4 linked regions of the Homo sapiens genome follow. The protein of the gene in region 4 purifies or fractionates together with the protein of the main gene of each other region. This does not show direct contact. Each region holds a gene or a part of one and is shown on either strand. Other genes may lie near its edges.

Region 1 (7,034 bases), on a different chromosome or scaffold from region 4:
ATCGGTTATATATTGATTGGTTGAACAAAATATGACCAGAGGCTTGCAGGAACCTAACCCTGTATTTCCCCTAGGAGCAATGGTTCAATATTCACTAATTCAGTATTCAAGGCACTGCACTCCAGCCTGGGCAACAAGAGCAAAACTCTATCTCAAAAAAAAAAAAAAAAAAAAAAAAAAAAATCACAAATATATAAACATATACATACTGATAACTCCCAACTTTTCCTCTCTAGCCCAAACTTCCTTGTCTGAATTCCAGCTTTGTATATCCAAGTGCCTAGTCAACATCTCCACTTAGATCTTGAATAGGCATCTTAAAACGTAACATGTCGGACAGGCATGGTGCCTCACGCCTGTAATCCCAACACTTTGGGAAGCCAAGGAGGGTGGATTGCTTGGGCCCAGGAGTTTGAGACCAGCCTGGACAACATGGCAAAACCCCGTCTCCACTACAAATACAAAAATTAGTTGGACATGGTGGCACGCCTTTGTAGTCCTGGCTACTTGGGAGGCTTAGGAGGGGAGGATCACCTGAGCTTAGGCGGTCAAGGCTGCAGTGAGCTGTAATCTGACCACTGCACTCCAACATGGGCAACAGAGACTTTGTCTCAAAACAAACAAACAAACAAACAAAACAAAACACACACACACACGAGAGAAACATGTCTAAAATTAAATACCAGTTTGCCTCCAATTCACCAACCTTATCCTCCCACATTCTTCTATTTCTTGCATGCCCACATCAAATCAATCCATCAGCAAACCCCATCAACTCTCTTCAAACATATCTAGCCTACACCACCACCATCTTTTACCTGGCTTAGTACAGCAGAATCCAGACTGGCCTGTTTCCATCCTTGCTGTAGTCTCAACATGGCAGCCAGGACAGCCTTTGGGAACCTAAGTAAGATCTCAGGCTTCCTCTGCTCAGCTCTCCAATGCCCCCTCACCCCATATGGCTTAGAAGTAAAAGACTAGCTTTTACTGTGCATCAACCGTGTCAACTACTTCACCCACATTTATGTCCTTTAACTAATTTAATGATCACAACAGCCCCATGGGACAGGTATTATTATCTCCACTGGACAGATGAGGACCCTTAAGGCCGTTAAGTAGCTCACTCAAGATCTCACACCTAGTGACCGGGCACAGTGGCTCACACCTGTAATCCCAATACTTTGGGAGGCCAAGGCAACAGGACTGCTTGAGGCCAGGAGTTCAAAAAATAAAAAAATTTGGCTGGGCATGGTGGCTCAAGCCTGTAATCCCAGCACTTTGGGAGGCTGAGGCAGGCGGATCACTTGAGGTCAGGAGTTCGAGACCAGCCTGGCCAAAACAGCAAAACCCCATCTCTACTAAAAATAAAAAAATGAGCCAGGCAGGATGGCGAGAGCCTATAATCCCAGCTGAGATCGCCCCACTGCACTCTGGCCTGGGCAACAGAGTGAGACTCTGCCTCAAAAAATAAATAAATAAAAATAAAAAATAATTGGGTTAGCCGGGCGTGGCGGCTCACGCCTGTAAACCCACCACTTTGGGAGGCCAAGGCAGGCAGATCACAAGGTCAGATCGAGACCATCCTGGCTAACATGGTGAAATCCCGTCTCTACTAAACAAAATTAAAAAATTAGCCAGGCGTGGTGGCAGGCGCCCGTGGTCCCAGCTACTCGGGAGGCTGAGGCAGGAGAATGGCATGAACCCGGGAGGCGGAGCTTGCAGCGAGCCGAGATCGTGCCACTGCACTCCAGCCTGGGCAATAGAGCGAGACTCCAGCTAAAAAAAAAAAAAAAAAAAAAATTGGGATGGTGGGATGGAGGGAGGCAGGCAAATCACTTGAGGTCAGGAGTTCAAGACCAGCCTGACCAACATGATGAAACCCCATCTCTACTAAAAATACAAAAAACAAAACAAAACAAAACAAAAACCAGCTGGGCATCATGGCGTATACCTATAATCCCAGCTACTTGGTAGACTGAGACAGAACTGCTTGAACCAGGGAGGCAGAGGTTGCAGTGAACTGAGATAGCGCCACTGCACTCCAGCCTGGGCAACAGAGAAAGACGCCATCTCAAAAAATAAATAAATAAATAAAAACTTTAGCTGGTGGTGGTAACACATGTCTGTGGTCCCAGCTACTTGGGAGGCTAAAGTAGGAGGACCACTGGAGACCTGGAGGCCAAGGCTACAGTGACTGGTGATTGTGCACTGCAGCCTGGGGAACACAGTGAAACTGTATTTAAAAAAAAAAAAAAAGGCCAGGCATGGTGGCTCATGCTGGTAATCCCAGCACTTTGGGAGGCCAAGGTGGGTGAATCACAAGGTCAGGAGTTTGAGACCAGCCTGGCCAATATGGTAAAACCCCATCCCTACTAAAAATACAAAAATTAGCTGGGCATGGTGACGCGCGCCTGTAGTCCCAGCTACTCAGGAGGCTGAGGCAGAAGAATCACTTGAACCCCGGAGGCAGAGGTCGCAGTGAGCTGAGATGGCGCCACTGCACTCCAGCCTAGGTGACAGAGAGAGACTCTGTCTCAAAAAAGGAAAAAAACCCACCTCACAGCTAGTAAAAGGCAGAGCTGGAATGCTAACCCAGGCAGTGTGGCACCACAGACCATGTTGTTAGTCACCCTGCTATGTAGGCTGCAAAAAGCTAAAGTCTCAGTGACAGCCCAGGGGGCTGTCTCAGACCTGGCCTGGTATCGCTCTGTCTTTATCTCCCCAGCTCATCCCTCCCACCTACCCCTACATAGCACAGCCCCTCCTGCCCCACCCTGGCTCTAGAACACAGCATCTACAGGCCCTGCTATCTGGAATGCTTTCTTCAGCCTAGCTCTCCTCACCTCCTTCAGGTCTCACCTCCAATCTCTCATGAGGGAGGCCTTCTTCGATGCCCCTCCAGCACTTGCAGCCTCCCTCCCTTCTTGGCACCTTGGCAGAGCATTTCACTATGTGCCAGGATACATGGTACTAGCCTATGTGTTGCTGTTCTTTCTCCACACACAGGATATAAACTCCATAAAGGCAGGAATCTTTGCCTGTTTTAGTCATGGTGTCTCCTTGGTGCCTTGCAAATAGTAGGGACTCAATAAATACTCAGTGAATGACCAGGAATGGTGGCTCACACTTGCAGTTCCAACACTTTGGGAGGCCAAGGTGGAAGGATTGCTTGAGCCCAGGAGTTCAAGACCAGCCTGGGTAATACAGTGAAACCTCACCTCTACAAAAAATAAAACTAGCCAGGCGTAGTGGTGTGCGCCTGTAGTCCCAGCCACTCAGGAGGCTGAGGTGGGAGGATTGCTTGAGCCCAGGAAATCAAAGGTGCATTGTGCCATGATCGCATCACTGCACTCCCGCCCAGGCCGCAAAGCGAAACCCTGTCTCTAAACGACAACAACAAACCTTAGCGAATCAATCAGAGACTCAAACATTTGGCCCACTACTTCCTGTGAGCCACCGTGCCGGGCCGAATTCCAGGTTTTCTTTTCTTTTCTTTTTTTTTGTCCTCACAATCTGTTCCCAATTTCAGGCTTTATAAGTTTAGTTGACTTTCCATTAGCCCAGTCAACTAGCGATCTCCTCCCTGCCACCTCCCAATTGGGTCAGTCAGCAGAGGTGAATGGAAATACCTAACACATAGAAAATACATCCATATACACATATACGACATGCTGACTTCGAAACTGATGATCCAAAGTAATGTGCAAGCTCATTTACATCCAACCCTGTATGCACCCCAGCCCCTGTCAATTGGTTTTATATCATTACCCAGGCATGGTGGTTGGCACTTGTGGTCCCAGCTACTTGAGAGGCTGAGGTGGTAGGACCGCACAGGAGGCGGAGGTTGCAGTGAGCAAGATCAGGCCACTGCACAACAGCCTGGGGAACAGAGTCGGACTATCTTTTCTCTTTTATATTTTTATTTATTAATTTGTTTTGAGATGGAGGGTCTCACTTTGTTGCCCAGGCTAATCTCAAACTCCTGGGCTCAAGAGATTCCTGACTTGGCCTCCCAAAGTGCTGGCTGGAATTACAGGCATGAGCCACCGCACCCAGCCGAGACCCTGTCTCAAAAAAAAAAAAAAAAAAACGGTTTTGTATTCCTTTTTGTGTCTTCTCTTCCTTAGATCCACAAAGAAATCAAATTTCCTTTTACCCTGGAAAAGTCTTCAAAGCATTATTTTTCTTACATGGTACCTCGGTTTTAGACTCTCCCATAGAGCAGGGAAGAAAAGATCCAAAAGAGTCTCCATAGTAACAGACTCCAAAAGCCAGCCTACTGCTGGAGGCTCAGTGGGTGTCCTCAGACCCACCCGGCAGCACCAGGGACAGTAGGACACATGGTGGGAGGTGGGGGCCCGGCCTGTCTTACCAAGTTCCAGAAGCTGTCATGTTTGCTTGGATTCTCACTGCCCAGAACATCTGCCGACAAACTGTCCACCTCGCACACATGGAGCCGGACCCAGTCAAGGAGATGGAGGAGGAGAGGGCCAGCTGGGAGGAGAGACTCTCATCACACACAAAAGCCTCAGCTTCATCTGCAGCAAGTTCCTTTATCCAAGGAACAGAGAACTTTAAGGCAGACAAGCTGACTACATAGGTTTATCCCTTTTAAGCAGTCACACACATGGTCCTGAATGACAGACTGTGCTAGGAAAAAGCAAATGCACTTTCACCAAATATTACTTCTGTGCCAGGCAGCTCCATCTTTAACTGACCCCAGAAAGGGGTGAACATGGAATGCAGACCTCACTACCCCACACTCCAGATTCTTCACAAATACTTAATAGCTACATAAGTAATGGCCGTTTAGGAACCAACAATGACTAGATAGCAAGCAGCCAGGTATGCAATGATGATAAAAACATAGGGCCAGGGGGCTGGTGGTGCACACCTGGAATCCCAGCACTTTCGGAGGCTAAGGCAGGTGGATCATCTAAGCTCAGGAGTTCAAGACCAGCCTGGACAACATGGTGAAACCCTGTCTCTACTAAAAATACAAAAATTAGCCGGGCGTGGTGGCGCATGCCTGTAATTCCAGCTACTCAGGTGGCTAAGGCAGAATTGCTTGAACCCAGGAGGCAGAGGTTGCAGTGAGCCAAGATCGCACAACTGCACTCCAGCCTGGGTGACGGAGTGAGACTCTGTCTCAAAAAACAAAACAAAACAAAACATATGGCCGGGCATGGTAGTTCATGTCTGTAATCCCAGCACTTTGGGAGGCTGAGGCAGGCAGATCGCTTGAGCCCAGGAGTTTGACACTAGGCTGGGCAACATAGGGAGACCCCATCTCTACAAAAAAAAATAAAAAATTAGCCGAGCCAGGAATGGTGGCTCACGCCTATAATCCCAGCATTTTGCGAGGCCAAGATGGGCAGACTGCTTGAGCCCAAGAGTTCAAGAACAGCCCGGGCAACATAGCGAAATTTCCTCTCCACAAAAAATACAAAAATTAGCCGGGCGTGGTGGTGCAGGCCTGTGGTCCCAGCTACTTGGGAGGCTGGGCAGGAGGATTGCTTGAGCCCAGGAAGTCGAGGCTTCTGAGCTGTGATCACGCCACTGTACTCCAGCATGGGTGACAGAGCAAGACCCTGTCTCCCCTCCCCCAGCATATACACACAAAAAATTAGCCTAGCATGGTGGCACGTGCCTGTAGTCCCAGCTACTCAGGAGGCTGAGACAGGAGGATCGCTTGAGCCTGGGAGGTCCAGACTGCAATAGCTGTGATTGTACCACCACACTCCAGCCTAAGTGACAGAGTGAGAACTTGTCTCAATCAATCAATAAAAATAAAATGAAATAAAATGGCAGAGTACAGCCAGCACTCCGTATCCATGATGTAGAACCTGCAGATACAAAGAGCCAACTGTAACCTCCTCAAAAATCCACTGGAGAAGGGAGGCCTCTGAACAACCAACTCTAATTTCAAGTTCCTCACTTCTTTAGTGAGAGTATGAATAAAATGCTAGGGCTACACAGAGGTTACTACTCATTTATGGAAAATAGCAAACATAAATCCTTAAAAGAAATGCAAAAAAGCTGCAGCAGATCCACAGAGAGCTCATACAGGCCATGACACTATACTGACCACAGTTTAATTCAAGATCAACAGAAGGCTGGGCACGGTGGCTCACACCTGGAATCCCTGCACTTTGGGAGACCGAGGCAGGCAGATTACCTGAGGTTGGGAGTTCGAGACCAGCCTGACCAACATGGAGAAACCTCATCTCCACTAAAAATACAAAATTAGCCAGGCGTGGCAGCGCATGTCTGTAATCCCAGCTACTCAGGAGGTTGAGGCAGGAGAATCGCTTGAACCCAGGAGGTGGAGGTTGCGGTGAGCTGAGATCACGCCATTGCACTCCAGCCTGGGCAACAAGAGTGAAACTCTGTCTCAAAAAAAAAAAAAGATCAACAGAAAAATTCCCATTGGCAGAGTTCATACCCATTGGCAGAGTTAACACACAGAGTTGCCCTGTCCCAATGATTCATGACAGAATTCCCAATGTGACTTTGCCTCTCACCACCTAATCCTACCCCACATTCATAAAACTTTCTTAAGCTTGGCCAGTCCATGATGTTAACACTGACACCCCCTTTCACACACTAGTTTAATATTTCTCAGTACTTGTCAGGGTTTAGGTTTCTTGGAGGCACTCTGCATGATTCTTTTTGCAGCACCTGACAAAACGGTCAGGTTTCTTTGGGTGTTTTCTAACGACTTCCCGTGGTTATAATGATGGAAAGAACATTCTCAGGAATAAAACACTCATCACCATGCACAGGAAAGATGAGGAAAGAGCAGAAGATGGAAGGGGACACCTATGAGATTATGGTGAGATATTCCATGCCTACCTGGGGCCACTTCAATAAAAAGAATCTCACACAGGTTCCAGATGAGCTCCATTGCTGACAAAATGGAGACCTAAGGAAGAAATGGGGACAGGTTTCACCTGAAATGATTCCTGAGCTTTGCTCTCAGAGCCAAGGGATAAAGCAGACTTTGACTCATATGACAGTCATTCCTTAACCCA
Region 2 (7,034 bases), on a different chromosome or scaffold from region 4:
GATCCTCCCCCAAAAAACTCACATCATTTTTTTCGATACCAATTCAAACAATCTAAGTAGCCAAAAGCTTGTTAGCACTGAGTGCCTGCCCAGCCATGACAGCTGCAGGCTGGCAGCACCTGCTTACCTGGAAACTAGGCAGGGGGCAGGTCTCGGCACCCAGGGACTGGGCGTACTCATAGGCTTCCGTCCTCTGGATTGCTTCGTTGGTTGCGAACTTTAAGAATGGCAAACTGTAGAGGAAGTGAATTATTTTGATTTGGAAAAAATGGCCAATTATTGGCATAGTCAACCTTGGAGCAAATCATCCAGAAGTGTGTCCCACCACGTGACAAATAAAGACATGATTCTGGCCATTTCTGAATTCACTAAAGGAGAAGGATTTTGTTTTACTTTGAAAGGAAAACTTACAGGACTACACTGACTTGGTTCTTTACCTGTGATTGGATCCGATTAAGACAAGCTTTGTAGTTTTCTTCGTGTAAACACCAAATCCCGCCTGGGCCATGAGGTAGCAGAAGTGGGCCGCATCCAAGAGGCCCCTTGAAGCTGCGGAGAGACGACACGACACACGGCGGGGGCTCAGCGACCGGGAGCGCTTGCAGAAGTCAAGGACGCGCACAGAAGGCACCAGAGACGCCAGCCGGACCGAGAAGGCCGGGTTCTGGTGATTTCTGCCAACGCCACAGACAACCGGGCCTTCGGCGCTCCATCCGCGACACCCAATGCCCATCTCCACCCCTGACCTACCCAGAGTGTCGCCCATGGTAGCCATCGTCCTGGACTCGACGTCCATGTTGTTGTTCAAGTTGGACAAGACCATGGCGAGGTGCGGCCTCCAATCTCCCCATTTCTCGTCTCCACAGCACTAACATGAGGAAAAACAAAACGAAGCCTCATCCCCGGAAGCCAGCGCCATTTCAATTCCACACAGCTGGGCTCACCAGGCACCTCACGGCCTGTGACAGCGTCACCCACGAGCAAACTCCACACAGGCAGTGGAGCCTGTGCAAGCCACCAGGCAGTGCCACTCACCGTGGACGCGGCAGGCATCCGTCCGGACATGAGCTGGTAGACTGTCTGCAGAGGGTCGTTGATTGGGAGGCTGTTAGCAAACCTAGGCAGACATAAACACAGAAAGACCCCATGCTGGCTCAGCTAAAAGAAAAAAGCCGGCCGGACATGATGGCTCACGCCTGTAATCCCAGCACTTTGGGAGGCCAAAGTGGGCGGATCACCTGAGGTCAGAAGTTAAGAGACTAACATGGAGAAACCCCATCTCTACTAAAAATACAAAAATTAGCCGGGTGTGGTGGTGCACACCTATAATCCCAGCTACTCAGGAGACTGAGGCAGGAGAATCGCTTGAACCCAGGAGGCAGAGGTTGCAGTGAGCTGGGATCGTGCCACTGCACTCTAGCCTGGGTGACAGAGCAAGACTCTGTCTCAAAAAAATAAATAAATAAAATAGTAATAAAATAAATTTTTTAAAAAATCAGCCCTAAGCCCTCTGATGTAATGATTAGACTTATATTTCACTTAGGCAAAGTACACACATCTCAATATTTTATTTTTCTTTCTTATCTCAATATTAAAAAAAAAAAAAAAGCTGTAAAAGATAAGGCCAGGTATGGTGGCTCACGCCTGTAATCCCAGCACTTTCAGAAGGCCAAGGCGGGCAGATCCCTTGAGGCTAGGAGTTTTGAGACCGGCCTGGCCAACATGGCAAAACCCACCTCTACTAAAAATACAAAAAATTAGCTGGGTGTGGTGGTGGGTGCCTGTGGTCTCAACTACTTGGGAGGCCAAGGCGTGAGGATCACTTGAACCTGGGAGGCAGGGGTTGCGGTGAGCTGAGATCGCGCCCCTGCACTTCAGCCTGGGCAACAGAGCAAAACTCAAAATTTAAAAAAAGCTATAAAAGATGAAGACTGAGGAATTCACTGAGATTTTACATGAAGTACTAAAAACCATGCAGTTAATTAAAAACTTTTTAAGCTCTCCACAACACGACCCAAGGAAGCCTCGAGGCCAAGGAAGCCCGAGTTCGTGTGGGAGCACAGCACAGTCAAGTGAGATCCGCCTGCCGCCTGCCCCCAGGGTGCGGACGCCGCGTGCTACAGGGAGCCAGCAGGGCTCGCCACTGGACCAGGCCACTGTGGGACTGTACCTGGTCATGACTCGGGCGTGTGTCCGGCTGTCCATCTTACTTGCAAGTAGCAGAGCGTGACCCCACAGGCCATTCTTCATTGCAGACTCCAAAGCATCCTGCAAAAGGCATTTCAGGGACCTTGGTGGGTTATCGGCGGCGCTCACGTGACATGAGTCAAGACAGGCCATGTGTCCTCACGCAGCAGCAGATACACAAACAACCCAAAGGCCTCAAAAACACACTTATTCACCATTTGGAGACTAAAGACACGTAGCGATTCATTATTTTCCTGAGTTTCAAAGTCCCTGTGGTAGTGGGTATTTGTAGATATTTGCTGCTTTTATCCATTTTCAGCATAAAACACAAGCACGCTAATCACAAACAGGGCTAATCACGCAGCGCTGCCCACCACGCCGCCCCATCCACTGGGAAACACGCTCGAGTCAACTCCCCAGTTCTAACAGGAGGCCTCCGCGAATATCCTGTCAACACGGAGAGTGACTCCAGTAAGGCAGCCTCCCCTTTCACCAAAATCATCCAGGGCATAATTTAGAACTTCTGGCTGGGAGGCAAAAACGTTACAGTAGAGAAAGATGTTAATAAAAGCTAACAGGTTACATGACTTCAATCAGTTATAAAACATCCATAATAGACTCATACTGATCAGGCCGGGCGCGGTGGCTCATGCCTATAATCCCAGCACTTTGGGAGGCCAAGGTGGGCGGATTGCTTGAGCCCAGGAATTCGAGACCAGCCTGGCAACATGGTGAAACCCCGTCTCTACAAAAAAAAAAAAAAAGTTAGCCAGGCGTGGTGGCATGCAGCTGTAGTCCCAGCTACTCAGGAGGCTGAGATGGGAGGATCACTTGAACCCAGGAGGTCGAGGCCACATTAAGCTGTGATCACGCCACTGCACTCCAGCCTGGGCAAGAGTGAGACCCTGTCTCAAAAAAAATTAAAAATAAAAAAATAAAAATACTGGTCAAATATGCCCTTTCTGAGTTTATCATGATATAAAAGGACAGAAAACTCTCAGCCTATCCCATGTCTCTGCTGTTCAGGGCCACACATGCTTCTGAGACTGGCCTCTCTCCTGCTTAGCACATCCAAAGCAAACATCATGCACCCTAGACAGCCCCTCCTGTGCACATAGTGTCACTGCTGCAGTCACTATGGACCCCCCAACCCCACTGTCCCAGAGCAGGCTCCTGTCTCAGGCCCCCCACCTGCCCCAGTCCCCACGCTGCTGTGACCCCAGTCACTGGACGCTACACGCACTGGCTGCTCTCTTGCCCATGGCCTTTCCATGCACTGCGCCTCTGACAGGTTCAGTGTGCCCTCCCAACTCCCAATGACTTCTGGGCTGTGGACTCGAGTCTGACTTTGTGAGAATGCCACAACTTGTGTCATGCACATTTCATCCGAGATTTGGCACACACAGCAGGGGCACGGCCTGTGCTCAACATGTGCATTTATCGAATAACTGAAAATTTAATCTGCAGGTCTCCAACACTGGAAACAGTTAGAAGGAAACCAACATTAACACCTCCAGAAGGATGGCATACAAGAGTCAGGCATTGTTCAGGAAACAGCAAGACCCGAAGCCCCACACTGCAGCGCGGATGCTCCCAAGAGGGGGCCACGTCCCTCCCTGAAGGCTGCAACCCCGCACCAGGCCCGACCCAGTGGACATGTGCAGGCGCCAGGTGCCATGATGAGGAGGCGCACCTTCTTACGGCCATACAGCAACAGCTCCCTGAACCTCTCGGTCTCTCTCTCGAGCGAGCTGGCGGCAGCCGCCGGACCACCAGTGAGGAAAGAGAGCTGGGCCTCACCAGACTCCTCCTCTTCCACCTGCTCCACTGCCTCATTCGTGAAATCAATCAGGTTTGCTTCATTGGGCGACTTCCCAGGAAGCCACACTGTTCTGTGGTCTCGTAACAGAAGCTCCGCAATGTCGGTCCCTACCACGGTCTGTTTGGGTCAACAGGAACAGGAAGGAGAACAACGGCTCTCAGGTGAGGACGCGTTGGACCACCACAGGCACAAAGCCCCACCCTGGACACAGCCAGACCCACAACTACCCGAAAGGCTGGCAAGGCTGGGCTGAAACCTCATCCCATCCCAACCGCACGTTCCCTCTCCCTCCCTACCCAGCCACTACAGTGTGCTTCCTAAGGGGGCCCTCGAGGCTCCCATAGCTGGCCACGCGGATCCCGCCCTGCTCCTTCGGGAGGCTGAGCATTCCCAAGACGAAATGAAGACCAGCAAGAAGAAACACTCTAGAAGTAGAAAGAAACATACCCCATTTTGTCTGCATAAGAGAACAATAAAATTCCAAAGAAGACTTGCAGACTCTTTGTCAATTAAGTTTTCATTCTGCAAACATTTCATAGCTTTGTTCTGTGCAAAATTAATGACATCCACCTTATGGGTGTCGTCTCTGCAGAAAGAACACACAGTGAGCAGTGATGTCTGCAAGGCCGGGCTCACAAAGAAATGCCTCAACAAGGAACATACTTGGCCAGGGGTCCCGGGAACGCCCGCATCTCCTCCTGCTCAGACGTGTGCTGCAGCAAGGCCTACGAGGAGAGGGCCGTGGGTCAGTGGCAGCCAGTGCGCAGCCACCCTGCTGGCAGGCCGGCCAACCCAGGCACGGATGCTGCCCGTGAGAGGAGAGGATGGCATGGCCCACCTGCCCCGCCCCACAGCAGGTGAAGGCTCTGTCGAGGCTGTTACATGGAACATGGCCTGTGTGGACCACAGCCATGATTTCAAACTTTATTTTAAGTAGTGAAATCCATTTTCTCTCCCCAAATACTGAGGCAGAACCCCAATACATGTGACAGAAGCCTGCAGAAGCTGCAGGAAGAGGCGCATGCCAGCCCCCGTCACCTCGGCAGCGCCGTGCACGTCCACCCCACCCGCCCCCCTCACCTGGGCAGCACCGGGCCCACCCACTGCATCTATCATTGAAAAGCACCAATAAAGCAAACATCCCCAAAACGAGGACAGAAAATGCATATACAATCAAACCACGTTGAACACCCAAGGCAGACGCTTACAATACTGACTTCTAGGAGGAAAAATATATGATCAAATAGAAGAAAAACCCTACAAATTGAAAATTCACAGGAATAAACATTTTCCAAGGACGTATGTCCAGAGACAAGGTCTGACAATTGAAGATGACAAACTGCAAAGCAGAGAGTTCCCCAGGGCAGCAGAGCAGTGACGCCACGCTTCTGCGTGTGCCATTACCTCCATGCTGTGGACCTCCACCAAGGCCGGCTGTCCTTCTGAAGGCAGATTGGGAATCACTTTGATAAGCTGACCGCCAGGGCCAAACCTGGCACAGACATGAGGCACTGAAAATTTTTCAGGAGAAGTTGGTCTTGATGAAACTGCATTTAAAATAAATTGAAAAAGAAACAATCAGCTTGTCACTGATGCTTCTGAGCCTAGATTTTCAATGTGCTCACACAGCTTAAATCACAGGTTAGATTTATCACGACAGACTTCCAACTCAAAAGTCGGTAATTGTTTAATATCATACTTAAAAGTAGAACTTCAGCATACGTCAGGAAAAGAAAAATGTCTGAATCATTAAGCATGAAAGCTGTTCCCTTGTACACTGAGAAAGCTCCCGCAACACCCTCATGAGCCGCCCTGAGGCTCCTGCCACGGTGCGTAATCCTCCCAGGCCTGGCCCACTCCCGAGCTCTTCCATTTTCACAAAATCAAATTCAGACTGCGATGACCACACAGCACCCAGCAAAAAGGACAGCAAAACACCTCAAGCAAAAAAGAAAATAAGGAGCCAGGCATAGTGGTGCATGCCTGTAATCCCAGCACTTTGAAAGGATCCAAGGCAGGAGGGCCACCTGAACCCAGGAGACAGAGACCATGACCGTGCCACTGCACTCCAGCCTGGGTGACAGAGTGAGACTCTGTCTCTTAAAAAAAAAGAAATGAAAAAATGTTAACTGAAACAATACTTTAAGAAAGTAAGGCCGGGCACAGTGACTCACACTCTAATCCAAGCATTTTGGGAGACCGAGGAGGATGGATCACTTGAGGTCAGGAGTTTGAGACCAGCCTGGCCAACATGGCAAAACCCCATCTCTACTAAAAATACAAAAATTAGCTGTGCATGGTGGCAAACACCTGTAATCTCAACTACTCAGGAGGCTGAGGCAGGAGAATCGTTTGAACCCGAGATGCAGAAGTTGCAGTGAGCCAAGATCACATCACTGCACTCCAGCCTGGGAGACAGAGTGAGACTCCATCTCAAAAAAACCAAAAAACAAACAAACAAAAAAACTCAGCCTACCATTAAATTCTGTAACTTTATATCTTTACGTATATTTCTGCAATTTGCCAAGAAAAAGCATTTGAGCATCCTGGAAGGGAACTCTGACTGACACGCGGGACAACTGCAGGAGCGGAGTCTCCAAGGGGAATGAGCAGCTCCCTCCTGCACGCCTGCTGAGCCACGGGGTCTGCGATGGGGATGTGATCAGGGGCTGCCCAGAGCCTGGATATGAGCTGTCCTCAGAGTCACACTTTAAAACGCATGTCGGGGCAGGCAGGGCAGCTCTCAGGCCTTAAACCAAACTGCAATCGAAGAGACAGCATCGGCCCGTCCTGACACACCCTGCTTCTCGGAAGGACGGATTGGGTCAGAGCCAGGCCAGGACATCACAATTCCAATCCCAGCCCTGACTCCCGTGTTCAGATGCCAGGCTGGGTGGCCGCCCCAGTGGGGTTAGCCGGTATCCCTCTGTCCTGCTGAGCACACACCTTGCTCCATGGCAGGCCAGACGGTGTCGGCAGGGTAGCCATACTCTGGGAAGCCGGGGCCACTGCTGAAATTGCTGCG
Region 3 (7,034 bases), on a different chromosome or scaffold from region 4:
AGCCTGGGTAACAGAGCAAGACGCTGTCTCAAACAAAAAAAAAGAACATCATACCCTCTCTAAAAATCGTATCTCCTTTTCTTCCTAAAAATTGTTGCTCAAGCCTCACCTGCTTTCACAAGACTGCCGCACACCCTTAAACTCTTTATTAGTATAAAAACACTTTAAAGGCCGGGCACGGTGGCTCATGTCTGTAATCCCAGCACTCCGGGAAGCAGAGGCGGGCAGATCACGAGGTCAAGAGATCGAGACCATCCTGGCCAACATGGTGAAACCCCGTCTCTACTGAAAATACAAAAATTAGCTGGGCATGGTGGTGTGTGCCTCTAGTCCCAGCTACTTGGGAGGCTGAGGCAGGAGAATCACTTGAATCCAGGAGGCGGAGGTTGCAGTGAGCCGAGATCGGGCCACTGCACTCCAGCCTGGCGACGGAGCCAGAGTCCATCTCAAAAAAAATAAAACACTTTACTTCCCCTCTTCCTTTCCAACCCCGATTACGTAAACTAGTGTCTCTCAGCTGCTTTTAGTTATGCAATATATTTGTTATTATACCTGCCACCTGAGTGTTTTACCTGTCTGCTGCTCTGGGTAAAAAAAATGTCTTGACTTTGCTCACTGGGTGTAAATTAATTTTAAATAGTCCATAGCATCTTACATAAGCTCCTTCCTAATAGCACTGAGCAGCATTTTTTTCATCCCCTTAACATAACCCTAATCATTTTAGAGTGAAGAGTATATTAGCTTTGGTGTGAGACATCTGTATTTAAAACTGTCACTCGGCTAGGCGCGGTGGCTCACACCTGCAATCCCAACACTTTGGGAGGCCAAGGCTGGTGGATCACCTGAGCTCAGGAGTTCGAGCCCAGCCTGGCCTACATGGTGAAACCCCCTGTCTCTACTAATACAAAAATTAGCCTACATGCCTGTAATCCCAGCTACTCAGGAGGCTGAGGCAGGAGAACTGCTTGAACCTGGGAGGTGGAGGTTGCTGTGAGCCCAGATTGCGCCACTGCACTACAGCCTGGGTGACAAGAGTGAAATTCTGTCTCCAAAAATAAATAAATAAATAAATTTCTAAAAGTGAAAGGATATATACCTAACTATTAAGAATCACTGTATAAGGCTGGGCACGGTGGCTCACGCATGTAATCGCACCATTTTGGGAGGCCCAAAGTGGGCGGATCACCTGAGGTCGGGAGTTCAAGACCAGCCTGAGAAGCAAGGAGAAACCCCGTCTCTACTAAAAAATACATAATTAGCCAGTTGTCGTGACGCATGCCTGTCATCCCAGCTATTCGGGAGGCTGAGGCAGGAGAATCGCTTGAACCCAGGAGGCAGAGATTGCAGTGAGCCGAGATCGTGCCACTGCACTCCAGCCTGGATAACAACAGTGAAACTCCATCTCAAAAAAACAACCAAAAAAAAACCTGTCAGTTACCATCATTGACTCTTAAAATCTAAAGTTAATTCAAAATAAAAAGTTAAAAAAATAAAAAATTCCTCTGCCACTTGCTACTGTAAGTCATAATATTCAATCTCTCAGACCTCAATTTCTACATCTGAACAATAGGGATTGTACAGCCTACACCAAAAGACTGGTAGGAGGACAAAGCTGCCTCAAACTAGAGCTCCTCAAAAGCAGCATTTTGTTTATTTTTCAACAGGTATTTTACAGGTATTTATAATTTAAAAAGCATAATAAATGTCCCCTCACTCTAAACTTTGGTTCAATGGCTAGCTAGAATGCCATAATTTCTTATTTCTCAATGCTTAAGTGTCATCCACTGATCACTCAGCACAAGCATAAAGCACCACTGCAAACAAAAACAAATCCCATCCCTGCACAAACACAATATATTGAGATTACTATGATCATTCAACCTCTTCCATCTATCTCACATCTCTGTCTTTATTCCCAACTATCCATCTTTTTAATTTACAAATTCATTTACCTATTTCTTTTTTTTTTTTTTTTTTTTGGTTTTTGTTTTGAGACAAGGTCTCACTCTGTTGCCCAGGCTGGAATGCAGTGGCATGATCATGGCTCACTGCAGCCTGGACCTCCTGGGTTCAACTGATCCTCCCACTTTAGCCTCCCAAAAAGCTGAGACCACAGGCATGTGCCACTATGTTGCCCAGGCTGGTCTCTAACTCCTGGACTCAAGCCATCTTCCTGCTTTGGCCTCCTAAAGTGCAGGGATTATAGGTGAGCCCCTGTGCCAGGCCCATTTACTTATTTTTTATTTATTTATTTTTTTGAGACAGTCTTGCTCTGTTGCCAGGCTGGAGTGCAGTGCAGTGGCATGATCTCAGCTCACTGCAACCTCTGCCTCCTGGGTTCAAGCGATTTCCCTGCCTCAGCCTCTCGAGAAGATGGGACTACAGGCACCCACCACTATACCGGGTTAATTTTTTGTATTTTAGTAGACATGGGGTTTCACCAAGTTGGCCAGGATGGTCTCGATCTTCCGACCTCGTGATCCGCCCACCTCAGCCTCCCAAAGTGCTAGCATTACAGGCGTGAGCCACGGCACACAGCCCCATTTACCTATCAAGAAGGTTGAGTGTGCAAATACTAGTAAGCTCTGTGTCAAACGAAGTAAAATTAAAGATGTGAAGTGATGAGTGACTGTAACATTTACTGAGGATGAACTGTTCCCTTCACGAACAGACCAGCCCTAATTCAGGTGCTCAATTCTTTTCCCCTTGACTAATGATTTTCAAATATTTTTTAGCCATGAAACCCGACATATAAAACAGACATAAGCAGAAGCTGCTCTGGCTGAAGTGAAGAGGGAGTAGGTACAGTAGAACCCCACCAGCTCTGCCCTATGAAGCAGCTTAGGGCTCTATGAACCAATGTGAAATATTGTTCTAGATTAGTGGTTCTCAAAGTGTGACCCAAAGACCCCTAAAAGTCCCCAACACTTCTTCCAGGGGTTCAATGAAATCAAAACCATTTTCACAATAAAACTAAGACACTTTGCCCTTTTTCTTTACTGTTCTGACCTCTGTGCTGATGTGCAAAATCAATGGTGTGCAAAAATGCTGGGAACTCAGCATGAATCAAAGCAACAACCCCAAATGGTGCTGAACTAACACTCACTGAATTCTTCACTGTCACCCATTTACAATATAAAAAATTCCACTTTCACTTAAAAGGGTCCTTAATGAAGCAGCAAAAATTATTAGTTGTATTATTTCTCAACACTACAGCACAATTCTTTTTAATTCAGTATTGGGAAATACTCAAAAACTTCTGCTTACTGAAATACAAAGGATATCAAGGGGCAAACCACCTGTAATTACTTTTGAAAGCTAAATGTAGTTGTTTTTCTCATGGAACACCATTTTAATTTTTTTTTTTTTTTGAGACAGAGTCTGGCTCTGTTGCCCAGGCTGGAGTGAAGTGACGCAATCTCGGCTGACTGCAAGCTCTGCCTCCCAGGTTCACGACATTCTCCTGCGTCAGCCTTCCGAGTAACTGGGATTACAGGCGCCCGCCACCACGCCCAGCTAATTTTTTGTATTTTTAGTAGAGACGGGTTTTCACCGTGTTAGCCAGGATGGTCTCGATCTCCTGACCTTGTGATCCGCCCCCCTCAGCCTCCCAAAGTGCTGGGATTACAGGCGTGAGCCACTGCGCCCCGCCCACCATTTTAATTTCAAAGAATGATTGACAAACTATGGTTATTAAGATTTGGTACTGGCTGGGCATGGTGGCTCACACCTGTAATCCTAGCAGTTTGGGAGGCCGAGGCAGGTGGATCACTTGAAGTCAGCAGTTCAAAACCAGCCTGGCCAACATGGTGAAACCTCATCTCTACTAAAAATACAAAAAATTAGCCAGGCATGGTGGTGGACGCCTGTAATCCCAGCTACTTGGGAGGCGGAGACAGGAGAATCAGTGGAACCCAGAAGGCGGAGGTTGCAGTGAGTTGAGATCCCACCATTGTACTCCAGCCTGGGGGAAAGACCGAGACCTCGTCTCAAAAAAAAAAAAAAAAAAAAAAAAAGAAAGGCTGGGCATGGTGGCTCATGCCTATAATCCCAGCATTTCGGGAGACCGAGGCAGACAGATCACGAGGTCAGGAGTTGAAGACCAGCCTGACCAACATGATGAAACCCTGTCTCTGCTAAAAATACAAAAATTAGCCATGTGTGGTGGCACCTGCCTGTAATCCCAGCTACTCAGGAGGCTGAGGCAGGAGAATTGCTTGAACCCAGGAGGCGAGGTTACAGTGAGCCGAGATCACGACACTGCACTCCAGCCTAGGCGACAGAGTGAGACTACATCTAAAAAAAAAAAAAAAAAAATTTTGATACAAAAATTACAACTACAAAAACATGCATTCGGCTGGGCGCAGCGGCTCATGCCTGTAATCCCAGGACTTTGGGAGGCGGAGGTGAGCGGATCACGAGGTCAGGAGATCGAGACCTTCCTGGCTAACACGGTGAAACCCCATCTCTACTAAAAATACAAAAAATTAGCCGGGCATGGTGGCACGCCCCTGTATTCCCAGCTACTCGGGAGGATGAGGCAGGAGAATGGCGTGAACCCGGGAAGTGGAGCTTGCAATAAGCCGAGATCGTGCCACTGCACTCCAGCCCAGGTGACAGAGTGAAACTCCATCTCAAAAAAAAAAAAAAAAAAAAAAAAAAAAAAACATGTATTCACCACTATCAGGTCATAAGCTTCTCAATTCTTAAAAAGACTTATCTGATGAGATGGGTGGAAACAGAAACAACTGTATAATTAAATTTGTCAACATCTGGAATATCTGGGCCAGGCCTATGGGGCTCATGCCTGTAATGCCAGCTCTTTAGGAGGCCGAGACGGGAAGATCACTTGATGTCAGGAGTTCCAGACCAGCCATGGTCAACATGTTGAAACCCCGTCTCTACAAAAAATACAAAAATTAGCCAGATGTGGTGGTACACACCTGTAGTCCCAGCTACTCAGGAGGCTGAGGCATGAGAATCACCTGAACCCGGAATGCAGAGGTTACAGTGAGCCAAGATTGTGCCACAACACTCCAGCCTGGGTGACAAAGCAAGACTCTGTCTCAAAAACAAAGAAACAAACAAACAAAAAAACAACAAAAAAAGAAGATCTGCATAACTCAGTAAATCAATAATTTCAAAATCAACATGCATCATGTTATAAAATCACAGAAGTGTAAAGGTCTATTCAAAGTACAACACAGACCAATGGTTTTTAATACAACAGAATACAAAAGTTCAATGACACAGTTTCAGATTCCATACTGTAATGAACCTTTAAAAAGGTTTGAGGCCGGGCACGGTGGCTCACGTCTGAAATCCCAGCACTTTGGGAGGCCAAGGCAGGCGGATCACTTGAGGCCAGGAGTTCAAACCCAACATGGCGAAACCCCGTCTCTACTAAAAATACAAAAAATTAGCCCAGCGTGGTGATGTGCACCTGTAGTCCCAGCAACTCAGGAGGCTGAGGCAGGAGAATTGCTTGAACCTGGGAGGCGGAGGTTGGAGTACGCTGAGATAGCGCCACTGCACTCCGACTTGGGCGACAGAGCACGACTCCGTCTCAAAAAAACAAACAAATAAAAAGGTTTGACTGTAGTGTCAAAGAGCAGTTAGAATTATCTGAAAAGGCCATTAAAATACTCCTCTCTTTTCCAACTATGTATCTGTATGAGGCTAGATTTTCTTCACATACTTCAAACAAAACAACATAATATATGTCAGAATGCAAAGACTGGTACATTTAGAGGTCTTCTTTTTATGATATGGAGTCTTGCTCTGTCACCCAGGATGAAGCACAGTGGTGCAATCTGCGCTCACTGCAACCTCTGCCTCCTGGGTTCAAGCGATTCTCTGCCTCAGCCTCCCAGTAGCTGGGACTACAGGTGCGTGTCACTGTGCCCAACTAATTTTTCTATTTTTAGTAGATTCAGGGTTTCACCATATTAGCCAGGATGGTCTCAAACTCCTAACCTTGTGATCCACCCGCTTCAGCCTCCCAAAGTGCTGGATTACAGGTGTGAGCCACCACACCCGGCCAGCTACCACTATATTTTTAAGAATTTTTCTTTCCTTACTAAAAAAAACTGCAAGTATTTCCCATTACACTGAATTAAGTACAAATTCCTCAATGTGGTAATTATGGCTGGGCATGGTGGCTCACGCCTGTAATCCCAGCACTTTGGGAGGCCAAAGCGGGTGGATTGCTTGAGGTCACGAGTTCCAGATCAGCCTGGCCAACATGGTGAAAGCCTGTCTCTACTAAAAATACAAAATTAGCTGGGTGTGGTGGCACGCACCTGTAATCCAGCTACTCGGGAGGCTGAGGCAAGAGAATTGCTTGAACCCACGAGGCGGAGGTTGCGGTGAGCCAAGATCACATCATTGCACTCCAGCCGGGGCAACAAGAGCGAAACTCTGTCTCAAAAAATAAATAAATAAATAAATACATGTGAAATATTTTCACTAAAGTAGTAGTCTCAATCAAGGGCAATTCTGACAATTTCTTCAGACATTCCTGATCGTTACAACCTGCAGAGGATGTGTTATGGGTATCTAATGGGTAGAGGTAGGAATGTTGCTAAATATCCTACAATATACAACAGAGCCCCCACGATAATTATCTGGCCCAAAGTCTCAAAGTTCCAAAGCTGAGAAACCTTTCTCTAGAGCCATACTGTGCCAAATACTTACGGTCAATTTCAAACAAAAAGAATGCACCAAGTTCTCAGGAAATGTTTACCTACCTTGCCTCTAATACATACTGTTTTGTTTTGTTTCTTTTCTTTTTTTCTTGAGTCAGAGTCTCGCTGTCGCCCAGGCTGGAGTGCAGTGGCACAATCTTGGCTCACTGCAACCTCCGCCTCCCGAGTTCAAGCAATTCTCCTCCCTCAGCCTCCCGAGTAGCTGGGGCAATGGGCGCATGCTGCCACGCCCAGCTAATTTTTCATATTTTTTTTTAAGTACAGATGGGGTTTCACCATGTTGCCCAGGCTGGTCTCAAACTCCTGAGCTCAGGCAATCCACCCGCC
Region 4 (3,716 bases):
TGGCTATGGCGATTGTCAGGGTCACAGGGCCTCCGCTGAAAGGTGATACCTGGTTCAGGGTCAGTTAGGTCTCCCATCATGGGGCCCTCCTTTTCCTGACAGGGTCAATAAACTAAATGAATCGTGCCCACTTTCTGGGCCAGCATCTTAACTATTGGTGTTTGGTTAATACCACGTTGCACCTGCGTGGCATTTTGTAGGTCACCAGATGCACTAGCGTGTTTGAATCTTGCAGCCATCCTGTAGGGCAGACTGTATTAGTCCCATTCTGCAGAACAGGATGTGTACCGAGAGGGTAAGTAGCAGACCCAGGGCTACAGTCCTTGTCACCAAAGGCTGAGTCCAGTGCTCTGTATGGTGCTTTCAGTATAAACTGAATCAGAGATGCTCATGCAGTGACAAGCCACCTTTGTGCGTGGGGTTAAGCCAGGCCATCACAGCCGTGGCCTTTGTGAATAGTTTGTTCTAGTGCGTGGACCGACAAGAGTCAAACTGAGCTGGTGGGGTGGGGTGGTTAGGATAACGCAGCAGGAATTATAAGCAATATGACTTTATTTAGTTCCTTTGGAAACAAAACCCCCCAAATAATGCCTGAACCCAAAGGTACATAAAAATGACCCAAAATAGATTTGAACATCACTTGTAGTTTCTTCCTCGTAACATGAGTGCTTTCAGCTGGACAGTAGATTACAAAGCATCTCCGATCACGTTAAGGCAGATGATCAATCTGTGGCTGCATCTGTAACTCCTCCTGGGAAAATAATCCTGTTGGAGTTGGGGGCTCTTCCCAGTTGTCTGGTTAGTTGGCCCAGGAAGGGGCAGTCCTGGAGCTGGCGGGTGGGGAGCCAGGCCCCACCTGTCTTGTCACTGCTCGTTCTGCTGGCCCTCTGTCACTGATGCTGATACGGAGCCCTGGCCCTTGTTGACATCACTGATGCACACCCACTGCCCATCAACTGACTCCTTCCACAGGGTCACCTGCGAGTCAGTGCACAAGCAGATTATCACGGGTCTGTGCCCTTCCCTCTGCTGTCCCCTAAATATGAGCCTCATCCTCATCAAGAACCACTGCCCAGAGGCTTGTGGGTGAACAGAGCATGTCCCTCCTCCACTGAAATCTCACCAAAATGAGAGTCCAGGAATAAAAACTCACAGAAAAAAAGGAGTAACAATAACAGCAGCTGTGGATGATGATGTCAACACAGGATACTGTTTTCAGCAAACTGTGACAGAGCTACAGCGAGAGGATATGGGGTGGCGGGGAGCAGGGTTCGCAAAGTGTGGTCCCCAGACCAGAGCAGAGCATCGGTCACCTGGGAGCTTGCTACAACTGCAGATTCTTGGGGCCTGGAACAACTGATTAGGAAGCTCTGGGGGTGGGGCTGGCAATCTGTTTTAACAGGTTTAACAACACTGCAGTTTGAAAACTACTGTGGTAGAGGAAGGTAACAGTTCAATATGTTGTTTCTACACTGAAGTAAACTGTATAAGAAATAGCTAAGAGCTGAAAAGGTTTGCCCCTGGAGAGAAAATTAGGAGGCTGCATTAAAAAAAATCAGTCTAGGTCGGGCATGGTGGCTCACGCCTGTAATCTCAGCACTTTGGGAGGCTGAGATGGGTGGATCACCTGAGGCCAGGAGTTCGCGACCAGCCTGAACTGGTGAAACCCCATCTCATCTCTACTAAAAATACACACAAAAAAACTAGCAGCCACCTGTAATCTCCCAGCTACTGGGGAGGCTGAGGCAGGAGAATCGCTTGAACCCAGGAGGCGGAGGTTGCAGTGAGCCGAGACTGCGCCACTGCACTCCAGCCTGGACGACAGAGCGAGACTCGATCTCAAAAAACAAAACAAAAAACAAAAACAATCTAAACCTATGTACATATATTAGTTTGATTAAAAATGAAAATAACGATTTTGATTTTAAGAACTCTTGCTTTAGGGACAAACTATTCACTCAACACACTGCAGAATGCTCTGGGATTGAAAACATACTAAGTCCTTTAGGTAAGGGTGCTATGGAGACAGCGAAAGGAAACAGGCTTGTAAAGAAGAGCAAGAAGCCTAAATGCACAGTGACGGGCCCCACAACACTGCGTGCACAGCCAGGCACTTGCTTACAGCCTTGTAAAAAAGTCACTGGGGGCCTGCTTGAGGCAATCTGGGTCCCTTGGTCTGCCCTGAGTGCCATCAACCTGGGTTCTGGTCCTGACTCTGGCACTCACTAGAAATATGGCTTTGAGAGGGGGCCTGCTAGATCTTTCTGGGACCACTGTAGATGAAAGGGACCCTCGGCCAGAAAAGCCGCCTGCAGAGGCTCTCAAGATCTGCACACCCATGTTCACAGCCACACTATTCGCAATAGCTAAGAGGTGGCAGCAGCCCAGGTGCCCTTTGGTGGAGGAATAAGTGTAGAAACAGGGTGTGGGCTGTCTATACAATGCAACACTACTTAGCTTTACAAAGGAAGGAATTCTGACACATGCTACGTACAGCATGGAGGAACCTTAAGGGCATACTGCTAGTGACATAGTCGCAAAAGGACAAATACTGTATGATTCCACTTAGATAGGTCGCTAGAGCAGTCACATTCACATAGACAGAAAGGAGAAGGGTGGCTGCCAGGGCTGGGGAGGGGCAATGGGGAAGGGAGTTATTTAATGGGTACAGAGTTTCAATTTTGCAGCTGAAAAGAGTTCTGGAGACCAGCTGCTTCTCTGCCTTGCCTGTGTTGGTTGTGCCGTGAGCCACACAAATGAAAGGTAAGACATGGAGCCAAAGTGGCCACTGGGAAACAGTAAAAGACCAACATAGGCAAGGGAGAGAAGCAGCAAGGGCTGGCAGGATCCAGACCAACTCGCACTTCAGGCGCAGAGCAGATGTGCCTGAAAACGCAGCACAGCCACTCCACGTGGAACTGACCCTGCGGCGTTAGAGATCCTCTGTCTTATAGGGGAATTCAGCTGGGCAGATGGCTATGGCTTGTTACTGCTTCCTTTCTGCGGGTAGCTTTTTTCCTTCTAATTGTAAAATACACGTCACATAAAATGACCTTGGCCACTTTTAACTGCACAGTCCAGTTGTGTGAAGTACATTTGGGTCCCTGAGCAGCTGGTCTCCAGAACTCTTTCAGCTGCAAAATGCAAACTCTTCCAGTGCACCCACTGTGTACCTGCCTCTTACCAGCATAACAAGTATTCATAAACTCTAAAGGTTTTTAAAAAGCCTTTTCAGTGTTATGGACAAAAAATATCCCCAATCTTCTTCTGTTTATGGGTTCTTATACACTTGCCTTTTTGGCACAGCTAACTGAACATCACCATGAGGTGACCAAATGCTTAGTAGGGTGATGGGCCTGACTGGCTCTGCCACCTCATAGTTTTGGGACCCCCATGCAAGTCAAATCGCCTCTGTCAGCTTCTTTCCTCATCTGTGAAAGGGGGACGTGTTAATACTACCTCAGGGGCTGTGACATTAATGATGTAACTAAGAGGCACACTCAAAACGCAGTCCTGGCTAAGGCTCCTGCCCAGCCTGCAGTCAGATGGGAATGTCAAGTGCCCTCTCTAGTGGGCGGGGTGAAGACCAACAGGCTGTGTCCACCATGCCACGGGGAATGGGTATGTACCTTATTGTCTCCACCAGAGACAGCCAGGATGTTGGCTGTGATGGACCAGCTCACATGCCACACCACATCGTTGAACTTGTGCAACAA

What was found.
Region 1: the proteins of SEC13 (region 4) and NUP85 purify together in Homo sapiens (affinity purification with mass spectrometry; 7 studies listed by BioGRID and IntAct, with this or other methods). This does not show direct contact.
Region 2: the proteins of SEC13 (region 4) and SEC16A purify together in Homo sapiens (co-immunoprecipitation; 5 studies listed by BioGRID and IntAct, with this or other methods). This does not show direct contact.
Region 3: the proteins of SEC13 (region 4) and NUP98 purify together in Homo sapiens (affinity purification with mass spectrometry; 6 studies listed by BioGRID and IntAct, with this or other methods). This does not show direct contact.

The regions. Positions count from the first base shown.
Region 1 is NC_000017.11:75,215,645-75,222,678, reverse strand, and holds part of NUP85 (nuclear pore complex protein Nup85), read right to left. Parts: intron 6,926-7,034; coding exon 6,856-6,925; intron 4,495-6,855; coding exon 4,373-4,494; intron 1-4,372. UniProt on the Homo sapiens protein: Essential component of the nuclear pore complex (NPC) that seems to be required for NPC assembly and maintenance. As part of the NPC Nup107-160 subcomplex plays a role in RNA export and in tethering NUP96/Nup98 and NUP153 to the nucleus.
Region 2 is NC_000009.12:136,459,007-136,466,040, forward strand, and holds part of SEC16A (protein transport protein Sec16A), read right to left. Parts: coding exon 6,956-7,034; intron 5,557-6,955; coding exon 5,414-5,556; intron 4,735-5,413; coding exon 4,673-4,734; intron 4,596-4,672; coding exon 4,457-4,595; intron 4,127-4,456; coding exon 3,881-4,126; intron 2,269-3,880; coding exon 2,171-2,268; intron 1,118-2,170; coding exon 1,036-1,117; intron 869-1,035; coding exon 751-868; intron 550-750; coding exon 438-549; intron 234-437; coding exon 128-233; intron 1-127. UniProt on the Homo sapiens protein: Acts as a molecular scaffold that plays a key role in the organization of the endoplasmic reticulum exit sites (ERES), also known as transitional endoplasmic reticulum (tER).
Region 3 is NC_000011.10:3,787,543-3,794,576, forward strand, and holds part of NUP98 (nuclear pore complex protein Nup98-Nup96 isoform 1 precursor), read right to left. Parts: intron 1-7,034. UniProt on the Homo sapiens protein: Plays a role in the nuclear pore complex (NPC) assembly and/or maintenance. NUP98 and NUP96 are involved in the bidirectional transport across the NPC. May anchor NUP153 and TPR to the NPC.
Region 4 is NC_000003.12:10,300,397-10,304,112, forward strand, and holds the end of SEC13 (protein SEC13 homolog), read right to left. Parts: coding exon 3,630-3,716; intron 979-3,629; coding exon 865-978; 3' UTR 752-864; coding exon of another isoform or gene 710-751; 3' UTR 535-709; downstream 1-534. UniProt on the Homo sapiens protein: Functions as a component of the nuclear pore complex (NPC) and the COPII coat. At the endoplasmic reticulum, SEC13 is involved in the biogenesis of COPII-coated vesicles.